Homo sapiens: one gene and its partners. The protein of the gene in region 2 purifies or fractionates together with the protein of the main gene of each other region. This does not show direct contact. Each region holds a gene or a part of one and is shown on either strand. Other genes may lie near its edges.

What was found. Proteins that work in one complex are often made in the same cells at the same time.
Region 1: the proteins of NDUFA10 (region 2) and DCX purify together in Homo sapiens (affinity purification with mass spectrometry; 2 studies listed by BioGRID and IntAct, with this or other methods). This does not show direct contact.
Region 3: the proteins of NDUFA10 (region 2) and DECR1 purify together in Homo sapiens (affinity purification with mass spectrometry; 3 studies listed by BioGRID and IntAct, with this or other methods). This does not show direct contact.
Region 4: the proteins of NDUFA10 (region 2) and NDUFAF7 purify together in Homo sapiens (affinity purification with mass spectrometry; 3 studies listed by BioGRID and IntAct, with this or other methods). This does not show direct contact.

The regions. Positions count from the first base shown.
Region 1 is NC_000023.11:111,408,558-111,413,409, reverse strand, and holds the start of DCX (neuronal migration protein doublecortin), read left to right. Parts: upstream 1-1,217; 5' UTR 1,218-1,272; exon of another isoform or gene 1,273-1,440; intron 1,441-2,263; exon of another isoform or gene 2,264-2,435; coding exon of another isoform or gene 2,436-2,656; intron 2,657-2,989; coding exon of another isoform or gene 2,990-3,011; coding exon 3,012-3,375; intron 3,376-4,852. UniProt on the Homo sapiens protein: Microtubule-associated protein required for initial steps of neuronal dispersion and cortex lamination during cerebral cortex development. May act by competing with the putative neuronal protein kinase DCLK1 in binding to a target protein.
Region 2 is NC_000002.12:240,004,101-240,009,271, reverse strand, and holds part of NDUFA10 (NADH dehydrogenase [ubiquinone] 1 alpha subcomplex subunit 10, mitochondrial isoform 1 precursor), read left to right. Parts: intron 1-1,901; coding exon 1,902-1,956; intron 1,957-3,976; coding exon 3,977-4,062; intron 4,063-5,171. UniProt on the Homo sapiens protein: Accessory subunit of the mitochondrial membrane respiratory chain NADH dehydrogenase (Complex I), that is believed not to be involved in catalysis. Complex I functions in the transfer of electrons from NADH to the respiratory chain.
Region 3 is NC_000008.11:90,018,477-90,022,811, forward strand, and holds part of DECR1 (2,4-dienoyl-CoA reductase [(3E)-enoyl-CoA-producing], mitochondrial isoform 1 precursor), read left to right. Parts: intron 1-432; coding exon 433-490; intron 491-609; coding exon 610-696; intron 697-2,432; coding exon 2,433-2,580; intron 2,581-4,335. UniProt on the Homo sapiens protein: Auxiliary enzyme of beta-oxidation. It participates in the metabolism of unsaturated fatty enoyl-CoA esters having double bonds in both even- and odd-numbered positions in mitochondria.
Region 4 is NC_000002.12:37,238,158-37,242,492, forward strand, and holds part of NDUFAF7 (protein arginine methyltransferase NDUFAF7, mitochondrial), read left to right. Parts: intron 1-3,420; coding exon 3,421-3,634; exon of another isoform or gene 3,635-4,267; intron 4,268-4,335. UniProt on the Homo sapiens protein: Arginine methyltransferase involved in the assembly or stability of mitochondrial NADH:ubiquinone oxidoreductase complex (complex I).

The DNA of each region.
Region 1 (4,852 bases), on a different chromosome or scaffold from region 2:
GTGTTGGGGGGACTTAACTAGGTAGGTTGCACATTTGAGGCTATCCACTCAACTAACAGACAGTTCCAGGCTTTGCTGAGTCAACACCTTTCACAGAAGAAAGACCATCATATATTTTATCCCACTTGGTGGCAGCTTACAATAAAACACATGCAGAGAAAATGCTTAAATATAAAAGTTCAACAGCACTATATAAAAGGAAGGGTTAATTATACTAGGAATCAGATATAAAATAATTACTGAGCATGCTCTTAGCTCTGAGCTTCCTGGAAGCCAAGCAAAAATAGAACCATGATAGTTCAAGGCTGCTACATATTGATGCATGTAGCTTCAATTGTGAAGATGGTAGCATCCCCCTACCCCATTTAACCTCTCACCTTTCTCTTTTGTTTTATAGTTCGGCCTGATCTAATTAGTTCAATTTGGATGCTTCCTTGAGTTTTTTTTGTAACATATTTTATATAAAGAAGTCAGTTAGTGACAAATAAGCAGTTTGAGGAGAAATCTGTTAATATTTATTTTGTAGCCATCAGATTTACTTCACATAGAAAGGTCTTTGGGTTGGGTTTGAACTTCCAAACTCTCAAAGGTAAATGCCACATTAACCTTTCATTAACCAAATTCTTACACCAAGCTGATAGATTTGGGATGTCCTTTTTACTTCTATCTTCCATAATATTCTAAAATTATTTTCCCTTGTTTTGTTCCTATCCTACTTCCTCTTAGTCTACTTTGTTGACTTCATTAAAAAACAAAAAACCAGTTGTTGGATACTTGAGCTAAACTGCCTTAAAGAATCTGCAGATTTTATTTTATTTTTTTTCTCTCAAGAGGGTAAAAGGAAGAGAGCTACAATTTCTAAGAAGCCTGGCTTGGCTGTCTGAGTCTGGCCCCCAGGCAGATTAGGCCAAGGTTTTGGCCAAGTGAAATTGCCAATTTTCTAAAAGAAAGGGCTAGCACATTGCTCATTAGAGCATTCTGATTTTGTCTGCGCAATCTTTTTGCTACCCCGCAATTTCCTGTTGGTTATAAATGAAACCTTTCTAGCTGTTAATGCAGCCTGTGAATTTTTTTAAAAGCATGTAATTAATCATAGGAGGTTGGGGGGATTCACTAAGCCTGAGTTACATGGGAGAAGCTGGACAAGGCACTAGGACCTAGAAGGCATCTATCCACCCTGGCAGGAATTTCTTGCTTGGAGCTCAGACAACAAAGGCATAGAGAGATTGGTTTTCTTTCTCTCAGCATCTCCACCCAACCAGCAGAAAACCGGTGAGTGGGGCTTTTAAGTGATTTTCAAGAAGAATGTAACAGATGTCAAACGGGAAAAGCACAAGGCAAAGCCTGCTCTCTCTGTCTCTCTGTCTCCTCTTCTCCTTTTTTGCCTTATTCTATCCGATTTTTTCCCTAAGCTTCTACCTGGGATTTTCCTTTGGAAAAGTGAGTTTGATGTTCCTTTGTTTTCACTGTGATGTTAATTTAGAATAATACTACCTCTGATCCTAAAGCAAAGCAAAGCCTTACTGGCATGCCTGGGGAAATGTTTGCTGCTTGCCTTGAGGAGGTGGGGTCTCTTACCACTGCAGGTTGTCTGACAGAGACAATGCTGAGCTCAGCATAGGTCATGGTGACATTGGAAAAAAGGCGGAATTGAGCCTGGCAGACCCATTAGGCACCAGTCTTTCTTATCTCCTGTCCTCCTGGTCCCTTGCAAATATATTGATGTGGCAGTGTGTAGCAGCTGAGCCCTGCTTGCTTTGTGAGTCCTTTTATCCCCATCTGTGAGATGCATGTTAATAGTTTGGCTCGTAGGATGTCACTACATTTGCTAGCATTTGTGGCTTCAGTTGTATTGGGTTTCATGTTTTGATTGTTTGGGGTTCTTGGTGGGGGAGGGGGTTCAACAGAAGGGAGAAAAGCAAAGCCTGACAAATGACCATCTTTTCTCAGCTAATGCACCTGGGCAATATACAAGTTTGGGGTGAATTGCCTGCTGTGAGGGTAAATGTCACTTCAATTAAGGTAGAAACCCAGAACAATGAAAGGTGTGCTTCCTTCTAAAGGTCCCGTATGCTGTTCGGAGAGTCATTTGTGAATCTTTCAACAATTAAATTATTCCATTAAGAGGTGTTGCTGCATCAGTGGGGAGGGGGTGGAGCACCTGGGGGGGAAAAAAAAGGATTTTGTGAACAAATGGAACCGGGGGAAGACAGAGCTAGTAACTTGTTAAATAACTTATTTTTCTAATCCTTTTTCCCCCCAGCTTATTTCTTATGAATGTCGGATAGCTGCACCAGCTTGGTGGGGAAAGGGTTTGATGAATAGCACAAAGACACTGGCTGTTCCCTGGAGGCTGTCCCTTTAAAGGAGAATCTTAGTTTATTCTGGGGGGAGGGGATGCACACATTAGAGTAGGAAAGAGGGCTTGGAATAAAATGAAAACACTCCCCCTTCATAGTCATTGTACTGAAATGCAAAGACTGCTTCCTAAGCTGGAGATGCTAACCTTGGGTAGCTCCTTCTGTTCTCTTCAAGGGGAATTTTGTCAGGCTATGGATTCATTTACAACTGTTAGTCATGTGGGCATGTGTGAGGAAACAGATGCCAGTTTTAATGTATTTAGCCCGAAGTTCCAATTTGATAGGAGCCACTGTCAGTAAGTCTCAGGATTTTCAGCTATTTCAAAATCTCCCCTTCTCCTCTGTCTGGAACAGTGCCAAGAGTGCCTCCCTCTCTATCTCTTACTCCCAACCCCCACAACCACCAGCACCCCCGCCCAGCCCCTCCTTCTTCTCTATTAAGATCAATATTCCTGCAGGTCAGGGGCAAGCAGCAGATGGGTCACAGGCTTTTTTCAACCAGTTCTTTTCACAAGCAGCAGATTGCAGATCTGGATCTGGCTAATATTTAAAATCCCTTCTTTTTTCCTTCTCCTTGTCCCTTTTTGTTTTTGCCTCTCTTCACCCCCATCCCTTTCTCCCACGCTCAGGTCTCTGAGGTTCCACCAAAATATGGAACTTGATTTTGGACACTTTGACGAAAGAGATAAGACATCCAGGAACATGCGAGGCTCCCGGATGAATGGGTTGCCTAGCCCCACTCACAGCGCCCACTGTAGCTTCTACCGAACCAGAACCTTGCAGGCACTGAGTAATGAGAAGAAAGCCAAGAAGGTACGTTTCTACCGCAATGGGGACCGCTACTTCAAGGGGATTGTGTACGCTGTGTCCTCTGACCGTTTTCGCAGCTTTGACGCCTTGCTGGCTGACCTGACGCGATCTCTGTCTGACAACATCAACCTGCCTCAGGGAGTGCGTTACATTTACACCATTGATGGATCCAGGAAGATCGGAAGCATGGATGAACTGGAGGAAGGTAATTTAAATAGTGGGTGGTGGCCGTTGGTGGGAGGTGGCATCATTGGTTATGGTTACATTCTTCGGTTGCTTTGAAAAAAAATTAGGCAATGTATTTTTCAAAACACCGGGTTGATTGATGCTCAAATTTCTAATGCTATAGACATCAACAGAACCATTAGCAATCACCCTTCAGTCTCTGCTGAGGTTGAAGTGTGAATGGTGGTGATCATGCATTGTGCTTATCTGCCAGGGTATAAAAAGGAAAATCTTAATTGTAGCATTTACTCTAGATTTTGTTCATAATTAACTCTGAGTAGCACTATTGAGGCAGAGCATGAAATCATTAAGGGTATAACGAGGAAGGACATTTGGTTGGGTTAACAGAGAAAATATTATGCCCAAATTTTCTTTGAACTGCTGAGAAATTATTTGTGAATTGCAACTCATTGGAAATATGCACCCTAAGAGCAGGATTTCCTGGACATATTCACAGAGGATTATTCTTTTAGGTAAGTGGTCGCGGCTCAGCTGTTGCTTCTAAAAAGCCTACTTTAGGGTGTGTCCCTAAGGCTGAGGTCATTGGGAGAAATACCAAAGAAAGCTGTAGGTATGTCTGGTATTTTAATAAAGACCATTCCTATTAGAATAGGATTTGACTCACTATACCTAAATCCCCTTATAACCTCTATAGATTTTTGTGTGGCAACTAAATTTTCTGAGTAGATTGCCAAAAATCCCAACAACCTGTGTACCCACCTCAAAATAGGGAAAATCCTACCTCTTACCAGAACTTACCCAGCCATAGAGTCTTCTTTGTGGTCATTTAGAAAATAGATCTTGGGTCACATTTTTAACATTCTATATTATCAAATCAATTATACTGAGGATGCTTCCCTATTTTAAAATTGGTGGATATAACACATGTGATCAATTTGACCTAATACAGTGCTTTAAAGAACAGCTTCAAGGAGTGGTGATAATTAATGTGTTCCTCCTCAAGCCCCTCCCCCATTATCCAGCCCTCTCTCCTCACTCCTTTCATTCCCTGAGCAAAGGTGAGTTTAAAGCAGGCAGATCTCTAGAGTAACCAAATTATGAAATAACTAACAAGGAAGGAGAAATAGCACCTTAAAGAATTTGATGTGGGAAAAACCTGCCTCTGCTTCACTGCTTCTAAGTTTCTTGTGTTCCTAGACAAAGGAGAATGAGGGTTTCCTTTGTACAAGACACTAGTTCTCTCAAATAGCTGCTGTTGCCCAAGTTGTCAGGCAAAGTGATTGGGACCAGTTACTTATAAAAGACAGTGTCCATATTGTTGCTGCATCTGAGTCTCAAGGTTCAAGTTCGACTTCCTTCCTTTCTTTCTTTCTTTCTTTCTTTCTTTCTTTCTTTCTTTCTTTCTTTCTTTCTTTCTTTCTCTTTTCTTTCTTTCTTTCTTCCTTTCTTTCTTTCACAGAGTTTCGCTCTTGTTGCCCAGGCTGGAGTGCAATGGC
Region 2 (5,171 bases):
TCTGAGAAAGAATCGTCACCTCTGAGATTTCAGAGACAAGAAGAGGAGCACTGAGTGACCAGCCTGACATGTAGCGAGTTTTGTAACTGTCTTTATTGTTTCAGATTGTTCTAAGGTGGGTGAGGAGCTGGGGAGGCTCTGGAAGTATTGAAATAACTTGGGGGTTCAGTAATACAGCTTGTGGCTCTCCTCGGCCCTGAGCTACCTATAGGAATAACCACCATTGAGGTTGCACGTGAACTGCTGGCCCAGCCCTTTATGGGGGTTTCCTCCAGATCCCTGACTCCACACTTGATACCTTCTTATTTTAGGCCTCCTTTCACAAGGCAGTGGGAATGAGAGGCAGGTGTGACTGGACGGAGGCGGTTTTATTTGTCTGTTGCCGAGGTTGTTAGCATGCTGAATGGAGGCGCACAGAAGATAGAAAATGGACTCTCCAGGTTGCTCTCATCAGGTAGTTTGGGGTCTGGAGCTCATTAAGGGCAGGAGCCCTGTCTTCCCCACCTTCCATACCCCACACAGCACCTGGCTCCTGGTGGGGCTTCAGCTAATGTCTGTTCAGTTATGTGTGTTGAACGAAACTGTCACATCGTCCTGATCTCTCATGACCACTCTTGTGCAAATATGTCAAATAGTTTGTGACCTTTCATATTGCTGTGTGAGAACAAATAATGTTTCTGTGCCAGCCCTGTTCATCAGGGATGTTTAAGACCTCTGTCTCCTATACACTTCAGTTGAATATTCACTTAGGTGACTTGCAGAGGGAATTATTCTCCTTTGTCACTTTGTGCCTTTCTCTTCGTATTAACAATGGGTAGCTGTAGAGGTTCAGGAAGCAATACAGCAAGTCCTGTAATTAGTGTGGCCTTTTCCTTGCCAGCCCTAATGGCAAATGCAGTAAGTTACTTTCCTCACTATGGATTTATTGTTCATTCTGCTTGCAGTTTCTGACCATTTATGTTGATCTTAAGGGTGCTGTGAGGAGTGCAGTGATCTCGTTGCAGTAAGAATCTGTTATCCAGTTGTATGACTCTGAATTGTGAGTTATAGACTTGTGTGGAACAGATGTGTTACTGAGTGATTGTAGAGCTTGAAGACTTTTTTCTTTTTCCTACACTTTGGAAGTGATGTGAGTCAGTAATGATGAGACTTAATAAAATACAAGCACTTTACCTGTACTACGTAATTTAATCAACCAGTGGTCTGTTGAAGATGGTCAGCAGAGTTGGTGAAGTTTGTTTGGTACCATTGTAGGGGTCAGATGCTGATTTCAGTATGAGAATAAATAGCTTGTACATTCTTGGAGTATTTACTTACCCTGTATGTTTACATCCTAAATGTGTGGAGGGTGCTCTGGTGTAAAGATGCCCTCTGTGCCTGTGCTCATTTAGGCCCTGCTGTGGAGGGTGCTGTGGTGTAAAGATGCCCTCTGCCTGTGCTCGGTTAGGCCCTGGGCTGTGGAGGGTGCTCTGGTGTAAAGATGCCTTCTGCCTGTGCTCGGTTAGGCCCTGGGCTTCGTTGTCCTTCCGTGCAGCGGGCACTGCCTTTGGCGATGGTATGTGCAGCTGCTGACATGGCTCATGTACCTTGCTCCTGTGGACAGTGATGGCTGTGGTCTGTCACGCCCTTGGCTTGGGGGCAGTGTAGTCAGGAGAAGGGAAACGAGGAAATGGTCCTGCTGTTGTCACTGTCAAGCCAGCCATGAGAACATTCTGGCTTTTAACATGTCCTCCTGAACCAGTCAAGCTCTAATGCACCCTCACATGCCCAGCACAATGCCCAGTGCAGAGAATGTGAGGTTTTAAATTTGAGCAGGAGACTTTAGCGGTATGTATTCATTTGTACATTTAACTTCAGCTTGGAAAAGTTTACACTGAATTTCATCTTGTTTTTTCTTACAGTGAAAAATGTGAGGTTTTACAATATTCTGCAAGGGAAGCTCAAGATTCAAAAAAGGTAAGAAAATGGTTGAAAAGTTGAAAGTTATTCCTACATTTGATTCATGTGTAAGGTTCTTGCAAATCAGATCGTCAGTTAGATTCCCACTGGTCTTAACAAACATCACTGTTTTATCACCTGAAAGCAGTGCCAGTCAAACCCATCATCACACTCCCCTGGCCATGAGGTTTCGAGTTTCTTTCAAGTAATTCGGTTTCTACGATCTGAAAATTACAGATGTCACAGAATCTTGGGTCATCCACTCTACCATTTTTATTAAAGAGATGGAAAATTGAAAGTTGGATTAGTTAATGGGAAAGATTTACATGTAAAGATAACAGTTTTCCTTAAATTCGTGTGTTTTGTGAAAGTCTAGTAAATCTTGGTGTAGTTTTCAGGGAACTTTATGAATAACAGCCAGACAAACATTAAAACATCTGAAGAAGAATAACGAAAGAACATTTGCCCTCTCACATACAAAAACAAACTATACGATTGTAGTAAGGAGAGCATTGTGGTGTTAATGCAAGAATTAATAAAGAGCTTAATGGAACAAAACAAGAGTCCAGAAACATGTATGCACCTGTGTGTAAGTATCTTCAGTTTGGCAAAGTTAGTTCCTTAAAGGATAATTACAAAAATGAAGTAGAGGAAAATTGTTTCCTAAATGGTACTGAGGCAACTGAGCATCCATTTGTTAAAAAACAAGTTTTTTATTTTGTATTTTATATATTAAGCATAAATTACTAAAAACAAAACGAGGTGTAACAATTCTAGAAGAAAATACAAGTTTCAGGATCTGGTCTTGAAGTGTGAGTGGTGCCCGTGTAACAGAGAAGCTTTGCATAGTTGGCTGCTGGGGTGACAAGCGTGCTTCAGTTGCCTCTCAGCATTGGGAGGGTGAGAAGAGGGAGGTTGACTGAGCTTTTCTGCACAGAGAGTAGCATTCTCCTTGCAGAGGGAAGCCCTGCATTCTCGCCCAGGCTCTCCTACTACCAGTTGTAAAGTTCTTTTGAGACCTTGGTTTATTCTACTCAGACTGATTAAATTACATTTCATTTTCTCCTCCGCCTTCTGTTTCTGTTTTTAGAGTATTTATATACCTTTGAGAGACTGTTTAGGTGGCATGTATCTTAGAAGAAGAATAATACGTTTTGTCTCCAATACTATGTTATTTGAGTTCATTTTTGAATTTACTCAAATTCCCGAAACTAAAGAGGGTTCATGAGTTTGGCCTGTTGTGAGGAGAGAATGCGTATGGAAAGATTACTCCTCTGGAAAGTCAGACTGTGTAGACAGCCAGCCTTGAGGCCGGGCACCTAGATCATTAGGTCTCTCTAGGTAATGGGTTTGTATCTTATTCTTTTGTCATTTTGAGGGGCTAGGTTTTGCCTTTTAGAAGGAACTTACTTGGGAAGAAATGAGTAGCCTGTCCTGAAGGCTGATTTTTCTCCCCTAGTCTTCATTGTTCTCACCTGTCCTTTTCTCCCAGCCTGCAGGGTAATGTCTGTCCTACTTGATCCCTGAGTGTTAGCTAGGCAAGGCCATACTGTGATGCAACACTCAACCCCACCATTTCATTAAAGGTCAGCCAGCTTCACTTCCATTCTGACTGTTACGGTGTGATTCTTCCTGCCAAATATTCATAGCTTATAATGTATTAAAATGTTACCTCTTGGCCAGCCATGGTGGCTCACGTCTATAATCCCAGCACTTTGGGAGGCTGAGGCAGGAGGATCGCTTGAGCCCAGGAGTTTGAGACCAGCCTGGGCAACGTGGTGAGACCCCATCTCTACTAAAAATACAAACATCAGCCAGGTGTGGTGGCATATGCCTGTAGTCCCAGCAACTCGGGAGGCTGAGGTGCTGAGGTGGGAGGATTGCTTGAGCCCAGCAGGCCAAGGCTGCAGTGTGCTGTGATTGTGCCACTACTTTCCAGCCTGGATGATAGAGCCGGACCCTGTCTCAAAAAAAAGTTATTTCATTTAAATTTCTAAAATGGGGTTCTCTGTTTAAATTGGAATTTTTCCTGTCTTAGGTGGTAGAGGACATTGAATACCTGAAGTTCGATAAAGGGCCGTGGCTCAAGCAGGACAATCGCACTTTATACCACCTGCGATTACTGTAAGTGCATCTGTGTGGGGGCTGCTGCATGTCTGGGGTCTACTTGCATGATGGGGAAACTTAGGGAAGTTTGAAATAATTATGTTTCAAGTTAGGTGTTAGCAGCACCAACCCAATACTTAGAGGTATTTTTTCTTCCAAACAGCTCCTGAATCCCCTGGTCTGATACTTAATTTATTGAGTGCCATTATTAATTTAACAGGCATTTTGCTTCCACTATGTGCAACACCGTTCCAGATTTAAGAGATATAGTGTCAGATAAAATTCTTGATGTCTTTGAAAATGTGTTTTAGTAGGTGAGACAGAGTAAACAAATAGATAAAACTGCGTCAGGTCACAAAGGCCAGGGAGAGAAGTAACCCTGAGTAACAGGGTGGTGAGTAGCTAGGGGTGACAAAGGGCCTCTCTCGGGATGAGGCCTAAGTGAGGCCAGGATTGGGTCCTGTGGGCCGTGGGGTGAGCAGAGGGCAGGGGCTTGGCAGGTGCAGAGGCTCTTCAGGCAGGAGTGTGGTGGGAAGGTGCGCCCAGCAGCCAAGCCAGTGTGGCCAGAAAAAGTGTGGGGAGGGGAGGCCACAGCGGAATGGAGCAGGACTAGGAGAGGAGGCCATGGCGGAATGGGGCAGGACTAGGAGGGGAGGCCGCGGTGGAAGAGGGCAGGACTAGGAAGGGAGGCCACTGCAGAAGGGGGTAGGACTAGGAGGGGAGGCCACAGCAGAAGGCGGATAGGTCTTGGTGCGTTTGGTGGGTTTTCTTCTGATGAGATGAGATGCCGTTTGGGGGTTTGAAGCAGAGGAGTAATACGATATGACTTATATCCATTCAGCTATTGTGTGGATTCTTTGGTATCTATTAAATGAAAAACAAAAACCATACCGATTAGGTAAGGTTGAAAAAAGCTGTCTTCATCTGCACCACTCTATTGAAACTGCTCCTGCCAAGGAGACGGCCTCGCCATTCCAGATGCGGCAGACCCTTGTCTGTCTTCATGCTGCTCCCTGGCCCTGGAAGCAGCACCGCTGCCCCTCTTCTCCACTCCCTTCTCCTGGTTCCATGCCCTCCTCCTCCCCCACTCTCTCACTCCTCCACCAGCTGCTGCCTTCTGGGGCCGG
Region 3 (4,335 bases), on a different chromosome or scaffold from region 2:
ATGTTTTTAAGAGTTTAAATATATTATTTTCATTTTAATAATAATTTCTATTCATAGTTTTTTTTGTAGAATGTGAGACTGCATGAATAAATGTAGTCTCTTTGAACCCATAAATTTAGTACAAAACCTACTAACATTATACCATGAATATATTTTCTTTGTAAACCTGGCTTATCAAGGAAATAATTTAAATCTGTGAGTAGATAATGTTAAAGTAAACTGGTTTAAAAGTGACTAATTCAATAAGTTAGTATCAAATATATAAAAATGATCTAAATTTGACTTTTAGAAAAAATTCACATTGATTTTTGTATATAAATAACATCTATACTTTCTCAGAAATGCTTTTCTTTAAGCTATGGATTCTCTGTATTCTTCAATTTATGAAATTGAAAAATATAATATGAAGTCATACAAGGTGTTTATTTCTAGGAAGATGGATGTTTTGAAAGCTACCGCAGAACAAATTTCTTCTCAAACTGGAAATAAGGTACATTAAAAATCAGTTATTTAATTTAGATTTAGGAATTATAACATGTTCAAATAATTTGTTCATGCGTTTGGTTTAAGAAAGCTGGAAAATGTCATATTCTTTTTGTTATTTTGCAGGTTCATGCAATTCAGTGTGATGTGAGGGATCCTGATATGGTTCAAAACACTGTGTCAGAACTGATCAAAGTTGCAGGACATCCTAATGTAAGTGTAGCAATGATGAAGCCAAAGTGCAAGACACTTGATGTTGATAACACCCACCAACATGTACAAAGGAAATAAAATATTGATACTGATGTAGGACAGGCAAGCCCGAATCTGGGGCTTAGCCTGGGAAGGTTCTTGGCTTCACCCAGGAAAGAATTCAAGGATGAGCCGGTGGTAGAAGAGAACAGCTTTATTGAAGCAGCAGCAGTGGAATGGATCTGTGACTGTTCCTTCAGAGCAGGGCAACACCATAGTCAATGTGCTGGGCATAGCAGTTGAGAGGCAGTTTTATAGTCGTATTTATACCCACTTTTAATTGCCTGCAAATTAATTAGGTTTATGCAGAAATTTCTAGAAAAGGGTTGGTAACTTCTGAGTTATCAGTTCGTTGCCATGGAAAGGGCAGTAACTTGCTGACATTGCCATGGCAATGGTAAACAAACATGGTGCATTGGTGGGTATGTCTAAAGAGGGGGTGCTTTCATCCAGGACCTGGTTTAACTAGTCCTCATTCTGGTCCTGTGATGGAACTCTGCCTCCAGAGTTAGGCCTCCTCCTACCTCAATATGAGCAAGTGCTGTGTTGAGAAGCACCTATTTTCCATCCCTAGGAAAATGCCAGTTCTGCTAAAGCAAAGAACAGAGTAGGAAGACTGCTACACAACTTCCTTTCAGGAATACTTAAAGAATCCATTTATGATTGATCAGAAAACAAACTTGATTTCACTTTATTTAATAAGATTATGAAATAACAAGAGCAGTTATCCAAGAGTACAGCATTGAGTTTAAATGATTGATGCTTTTTGCTTCTCCTAGTAACTTTTGATTGTCTTCCTCAGTGGAGGAGAACGATATAAACATGAAAAACTATAAGAAATTCAAAATTTCTCCTTTTAAGACCTGAAATATGCATGAATATTTTGCTGTTGCTTGGTACATTTATCGGAGAGAAGCCGTTTCTTCCAGTAGTCTCAAAGATAGCACTTTTCTATGTTAAAGGTATTTTCAGAACCAGTAACACTGAATCTCCTGTAGAACTAGCCAGAATCTTTACTGATGGTAAATAGATCATCAACCACAAGCTGCATTGGTTAAGTTAAACTAAAATGACACCAGAAACAAAAAGCCATTTCTTGAGATTCTTTGAAATAAAATGCAGTCACATGGTAAATATGTTTAATCTGTATTAATTTTCTTTTTTTTAACTTTTAAAATTTTATTCATTTATTTTGAGACAGAGTCTTGCTCTGTCACTCAGGTTGGAGTGCAAGTGGCACAATCACGGCTCAGTGGAGCCTTGACCTCCTGGGTTCAAGCGATACTCCCACCTCAGCCTCCCAAGTAGCTGGGAATACAGGCACGTGCCACCACACCCAGCTAATTTTTAAAACAAAATTTTTGTAGAGATGACGTCTCGCTTTGTTGCCCAGCCTGGTCTTGAACTCATCCCAAAGTGCTGGGATTACAGGCATGAGCCACTGCACTCAGCCTTAGTTTTCTTAATAAGAGAATCTACCCTAATTTAAAGACGGCTTAGGATTCTGAAATTTGGTAACTAACGTAGGAGGTTTTCACAGACTCAGACTACCAAATCTCATGGTATTGTTTCGTAGGTAGCTGTGGACTTCAACTTTATTGTATTATTTCTATTAATACATTTCAGAAAAAAAACCCTGCAGGGAAAATGTTTTTCCTCATCTAAAGTTTCTGTAACTTGCCTTGTTCATTTATTAGATTGTGATAAACAATGCAGCAGGGAATTTTATTTCTCCTACTGAAAGACTTTCTCCTAATGCTTGGAAAACCATAACTGACATAGTTCTAAATGGCACAGCCTTCGTGACACTAGAAATTGGAAAACAACTAATTAAAGCACAGAAAGGTATGTTTATTTGCTTTTCTCATATTTATTTGGCTTCTGTGTGTGCAAGGTTCTGTGGTAAGCTCTGTGATACTTTAAAAGTCAATGAGACAGTCTACACTTGTACAACTCACAGTGTAATGGAGAAAAATGATATTTAAATAATTATCATATGTTACAATTTGAGCAGTAATAAATATATGTTTCAAGTGCATTGGCAATCCAGAGACAGGAATGACTAACTCTCCCTAGGGTCAGTGATCAGGTTGAGGAACAAGATGCAACTTAAGCTGAAAGTTCAAAGATCTAGATGTGGAGAAAGAGGAGGGAAAGGACATGTGAATGTCAATGGATAGAGGCCTGGTGGAGAGGAGGACATAAGTACATAGGGAATGATGAAAACTTTGATGTCATTAGAGATGGGGAAAGGAATAGGAAATGATTTTGGGAAGGTGGGTTGGAGTGTAATTGGGAGAGTTCTCAATACCAAAATAAGGAGTTTAATGTTAATTCTGAAAGAAATAGGAAGTATTTTTGTATAGATTTCCATTGAAGGTGGAACAAAGAATGCGACTTGATTGGAAAGGTTAGTGACAACAAGATGGATGATAAAAGGAGTGCCATTCAGGAGGATTTGATTTTTCTTTTAGCAGGTGGCTAGATTGCATGGGAGATAAAGTAGAAGACATTTAGAAGACAATAAGATCAACAGGCCTTATTGATTTGATGAGAGTATTTTTAGATGGGATGAAGAGTCTGGATGATAATACCAATGAGATTAAGAACACTGGAGGGAAAATAGATTTAGAAAGAACTTACTAGGAGAACATTTTTGTTAGTATTATGAATGAATTACTTTATAAAAGTTCATATGTACATGGATAGCAAACATGTCTAATGTATATATGTGTGTATATTCATATATATCTAGAACCAGCGTACATTTATTCACCTGACAGACACTTACTAATGACTTTTGGGTAGCAGGCCCTATACTCATGCTCAAAGCACAGAGGTGGACAAGACCCTGTCCCTGAATAATTTGGGGAACTTGAAGGGTGCGGGTATTTTCTCAGAGAAGGTGGAGAGTATTTTAAACAAGGAAAATGAGGAAGCGTTCTCATGCTCCTCAGAGGATGTCCTTTGAGGGTTGAGGGGAGGAAAGAGGGCATGGAGCTGGCTAGGTTCCTCCCTCTGTTCAGAAACCTTTGCCTTATAAGGTTCAATTTCTTCTTTTGTGCAGCGCAGGTGATCCTAGAACCAGCTTGAGATACGCTGTAGGAACAGAGAGATGCTACAGAGGCACTAGCTCTGTGTGTGTGTGTGTCTGCTCACATACATACACTAATAGCTTCCATCCTTTCTATGCACTCATTGAAATTGAAATTCCTGGTTACTCATTTCCATGATGGCAGAATGGATGTGATTTATAATTGGATTTTGGATAAGTGTTTTATTTGATGTTTTTTTTTTCAGTGAGGGGCAGGAAGATGGATAAGAGTGGGAAGGGGGGACAGGGAAGAGTGTGACTCCTCTCTCTTCCCTTCTCTGTCCGAGGAACCTTGATCTCTGTATCTCTCCTGTGTCTCTGCCTCTGTCTGATTTTCTCTCGCCCTACCCCTTGCTGATATCTCCATTTCATTCTCTACTGCTCTGCCTCTGTCAGCTCCTCATTTTTGGTTCTCTGTTTCTCTCTTCATCTGTCTCTTTCGTTTCTTTGTCCTTCTTTGCCTCTTTGTCTCTTATTTCTTCCCTCGCTCATCTCTGTGACCCTCA
Region 4 (4,335 bases), about 200 Mb from region 2:
GGCCAGGCATGGTGGCTCAATCCTAGCACTTTGAGAGGCCAAGGTGGGCAGATCACAAGGTCAGGAGTTCGAGACCAGCCTGACCAACATAGTGAAACCCCGTCTCTAGTAAAAATACAAAAATTAGCTGGGCATGGTGGTGTGCATCTGTAATCCAGCTACTCAGGAGGCTGAGGCAGGGAATCGCTTGAACCCAGGAGGCAGAGGTTGCAGTGATTGCTGCAGTGATTGATTGCAGAGCTGAGATTGCGCCATTGCACTCCAGCCTGGTGACAGAGCGAGACTCCGTCTCAAAAAAAAAAAAAAGTTTAGGCTGGGCAAAGTGGCTCATGCCTGTAATCGTAGCACTTTGGGGGGCCAAGGTGGGAGGATTGCTTGAGGCCAAGAGTTCAAGACCAACCTGGCCAACAAAGCAAGACCTCGTCTCTTTTTATATTAAAAAAAAAAAAAGCAGAAGGCATAAAGCAAAAGATTAATATTTCATTTCTTACATTAAAATTAAAAACTTCTTGCTCTACAAATAAACTAGCAGCTTTTTGTTCTTCAGAGACCCCATTAAGAGAGTGATTAGACAAGCCACAGAGTGGGAGAAGTTATTTGTAACACGTAACCAACAGAGAACTAGTAGTTAGAATTATTTAAATAACTCCTTTAGGTCAGTAAGAAGACAGATAACTTGAGAAAAATCAGGCCAAAGATGTGAACAAGTCCATTCATAAAAGAGGAAAATACAAACGGCTAAAAAAGCAAAAAAAAAAAAAAAAAGATTAGTCACATTGGTAGTCAGGAAGATGAAAATTAAAATCACAATGAGATACTACTGTAACCCTTGCCAGATTAGAAAAAAAAGCTAAAAGTCTGTCAACACCAAGTATTGGTGAAGATGTGGATTTGTGGATCAATGGCAACTCTCATATACTGCTTGTAAAACTATAATTTAGTACATCCTTTTTTCTTTCTCTTTTTTTTTTTTTTTTTTGAGACACAGTCTCACTTTGTCACTCAGGCTGGAGTGCAGTGGTACGATCTTGGCTCACTGCAACCTCTGCCTCCCAGGTTCAGGCGATTCTTGTCCCTCAGCCTCTTGAGTAGCAGGGATAATAGGCGTGGATCACTACACCCGGCTAATTTTTTTATTTTTAGTAGAGAAGGGGTTTTACCATGCTGGCCAGGCTGATCTTGAACTCTTGGCTTGAAGTGGTCCGCCTGCCTCGGCCTCCCAGAGTGCTGGGATTACAGGCATGAGCCCCCGTACCCAGCCTTGTACAACCTTTTTGAAAAGCTATTGGCCATTATCTATTAACATCAAAGTTTCTTATATTGTATGACCCAGCAATTTTACTGCTAGTGATATACCCTAGAGAAACTAGTGTATATGTGTACCAGGAGACACATACAAGAAGATAGCAGCATTGTATAAAATAGCGGAAAATAACAGCACAAATGCCCATCGGGGGGTAAATGAATCAGTTAATTGTGGTATAGTCATACAGTGGAATACGAAGTACTGCAAGAATGCGTGAAATCACAGTGGAATATAACAGTGTTCAACATGAAACAAGATGTGTGAAAGTAGCAGTTTGCAAGAGTTCGTATCATATGATTGTATTTATATAAAATCCAAAAAATAGTCAACATTAAACAATATGTATTTGGTGATAAAAATATATTTAGTAACATTTATAAAGAAAAGTCAGGGTGTTATTAACTCAAGATTCAGAATGGTGGTGACTTCCAAGGGTAGAGGGAGTCCACAGGGGCTTTGGAGATAAGGTCATGTCCCATTTATGGTAGATATTCTCTCTTGTATCATTGTTTCTATCAGTCTACGTACTATTTTATGAAAACATTAAAAAGGAGGACAGTTGTTTATAGTACCTGATAAGTAATAGTATTTATTAAACTTTTGTAGTTTTTAGTATTTTGGAACTCATTAGTGTTTTTGAGTTTATTTTATATGTACTTGACAATTCAATGTAAAAAACAAACATGGCTGGGCGCAGTGGCCCATGCCTGTAATCGCAGCACTTTGGGAGTTCGAGGCTCCCAAAGTTCAAGATCAGCTTGGGCAATACGGTGAAACTCCATCTCTACAAAAAATACAAAAATTACCCAGTCGTGGTAGCATGCGTCTGTGGTCGAAGCTAGTTGAGGGGCTGAGATGGGAGGATTGCTTGAGCCCAGGAGGTTGAGGCTGCAGTGAGCTGTGATTATGCCTCTGAGTAACAAAGTGAGACCCTGTCTCAAAAAAAAAACCAAAAAACACCAACACATACTCAATATAAATTTAAATTTCTTGATGCTTTATGGTTTTTGCTTTAAATTAGAAATTAAAGGATTTAAAAAATATATAAAATATATAAACATATGACAAATAAGAATCTTGATTATTTGGGTGAAGAAAGAAAACAAAATCACGAATTTAAATTTCCAGGGCTCTATTTTATGTTTTTCAGCAAGGTCATTTGAATATAAAATATTTAATAAGGACCTCAAATCATATTCTCTTGTTCAAGTACTTTAAAAGTTGATTCCAGAGCCCTTAAAATGTATGAAGGATGCTTTTCCAGACTGAGTCATAAGAAGTCCTAAAAGCCAAAGAATTTAAAGGGTTGTAAAGCAAATAGCCAGAGAAGTGTCAGACCTGTTTTATTTTTGATGTTACCTTCTGAAGGAATTTCTCCTGGGAAGTTTTTCCATTTGTATTTCGATCTCAAAACTAAATTTGGAAAAATCATCTTGTTCATATTATCAGTCTGGATGTGCATATTCATATCTCAAAAGTATTAATTGGAGGCAGATCACCAGTAGAAATTAAATTCAAATGAAAAATAATGTTGATACACTTTATGCTTTTGCTATTGATTTTTTAGCCTTAAAAGATTGGTAAAATATTAGTATTTTCCTTTTTCCCTTGCATGTTTACAACAGTGAAAAAATGTGTAGCTAAATATAGATTGAAAATGTGGCAGACCCCCGAGTTAAGCAGTCAGGTTTTCAGTACCATTCAGATTTGGTTCTTTGAGGTTAGAGTTCTCATCATCTCAAAGATGAGATTACTTCCTAGACCTAGAGATGTTATCAAATCAAGGCTGTGTACATTTTATTTCCTTGGTCTTTTTTTAGACTCCATAATCTGAATCATTGTTTTTATCAGATGCCAAATCTTTTATTTTCATTTGTTAATCATAATTTATCATTAGGAAACCAAATTGTGCATTGTTCATTTCTTATTTAGATTATGCTTAATAACTAGTAGGTTAGGATTCTTATAGACTGCTGGAGAGTGGCTTGGGTAAGGAACACATCTCTCTGAAATATTACCTCTATTGTGACATGACTAAATCATTGATGTAAATGATTAGGAAACTTAAAACCTACTTAACACATTGTATTTTTTTTTCTTCTTTTGGTATTTAGGTGTTCACTCAACTTGGATCTGTGCTGAAAAATTGTGACATTTCAGTACATCTGGTAGAGGTAAGCCAAAAATTAAGTGAGATTCAAGCATTGACACTGACTAAAGAGAAGGTCCCGTTAGAGCGAAATGCTGGATCCCCAGTGTATATGAAAGGTGTCACTAAGTCTGGGATTCCAATTTCCTGGTACCGAGATCTGCACGATGTTCCAAAAGGTAATTACCTTTATGTGGATTAATGAAAGAATTTTGATCACAACCCTCACAGTATTGATGGGACTGTAACTTTTTACAGCAATATAATAGATTGAGTTACTGCTGCCAAGTCCCTTATCCATAGAGAGTAGCCTACTTTTTTCTAGAAAAGAGCATCTTAATAGAAAATAAAGTTGCCTGACATTAAGTAGTAGTTTATTTCATGAAGCTTTGTAAAATCCCAAACAAAATGTAAATCTCCTTTGTACTTTTGAGTATTTCCCTATAGCTAGGGTTGTACCGATGACGGAGCAGCCCAAGGCAGCTGGGGCTGATGGAAGCAGTGTTAGTAGGTGGGTTTAGTTCAGTTATAGAGTCTTTTAAAAAATCCTTACTTGCCTAAAGACAAGCAAGGTGTGGGGGAAAATCCCTGTACTAGTCAGGAATACTGACTAGTATTGACTAGTTTGAGTCTTGACTCAAAGCCAAAGTGGGGGTACGATCTTGGGTAAGGGATCTCAAGCCATTCCTGCCTCAGCCTTCTCAGGCTGAGAAGCCCGATTTTATGAAATCAAATTCCCTTCCAGCTAACAACTCTGACTTCTAATTTCTTTCAAGCCTTGTGATGAATAAAAGCTTTAACTGCTATTTCAGGTATTTCCATTTTCTGACCCCATTTATGTGTAAAATAAGAATAGTAATAATTGTTCTATGTTCTGCAG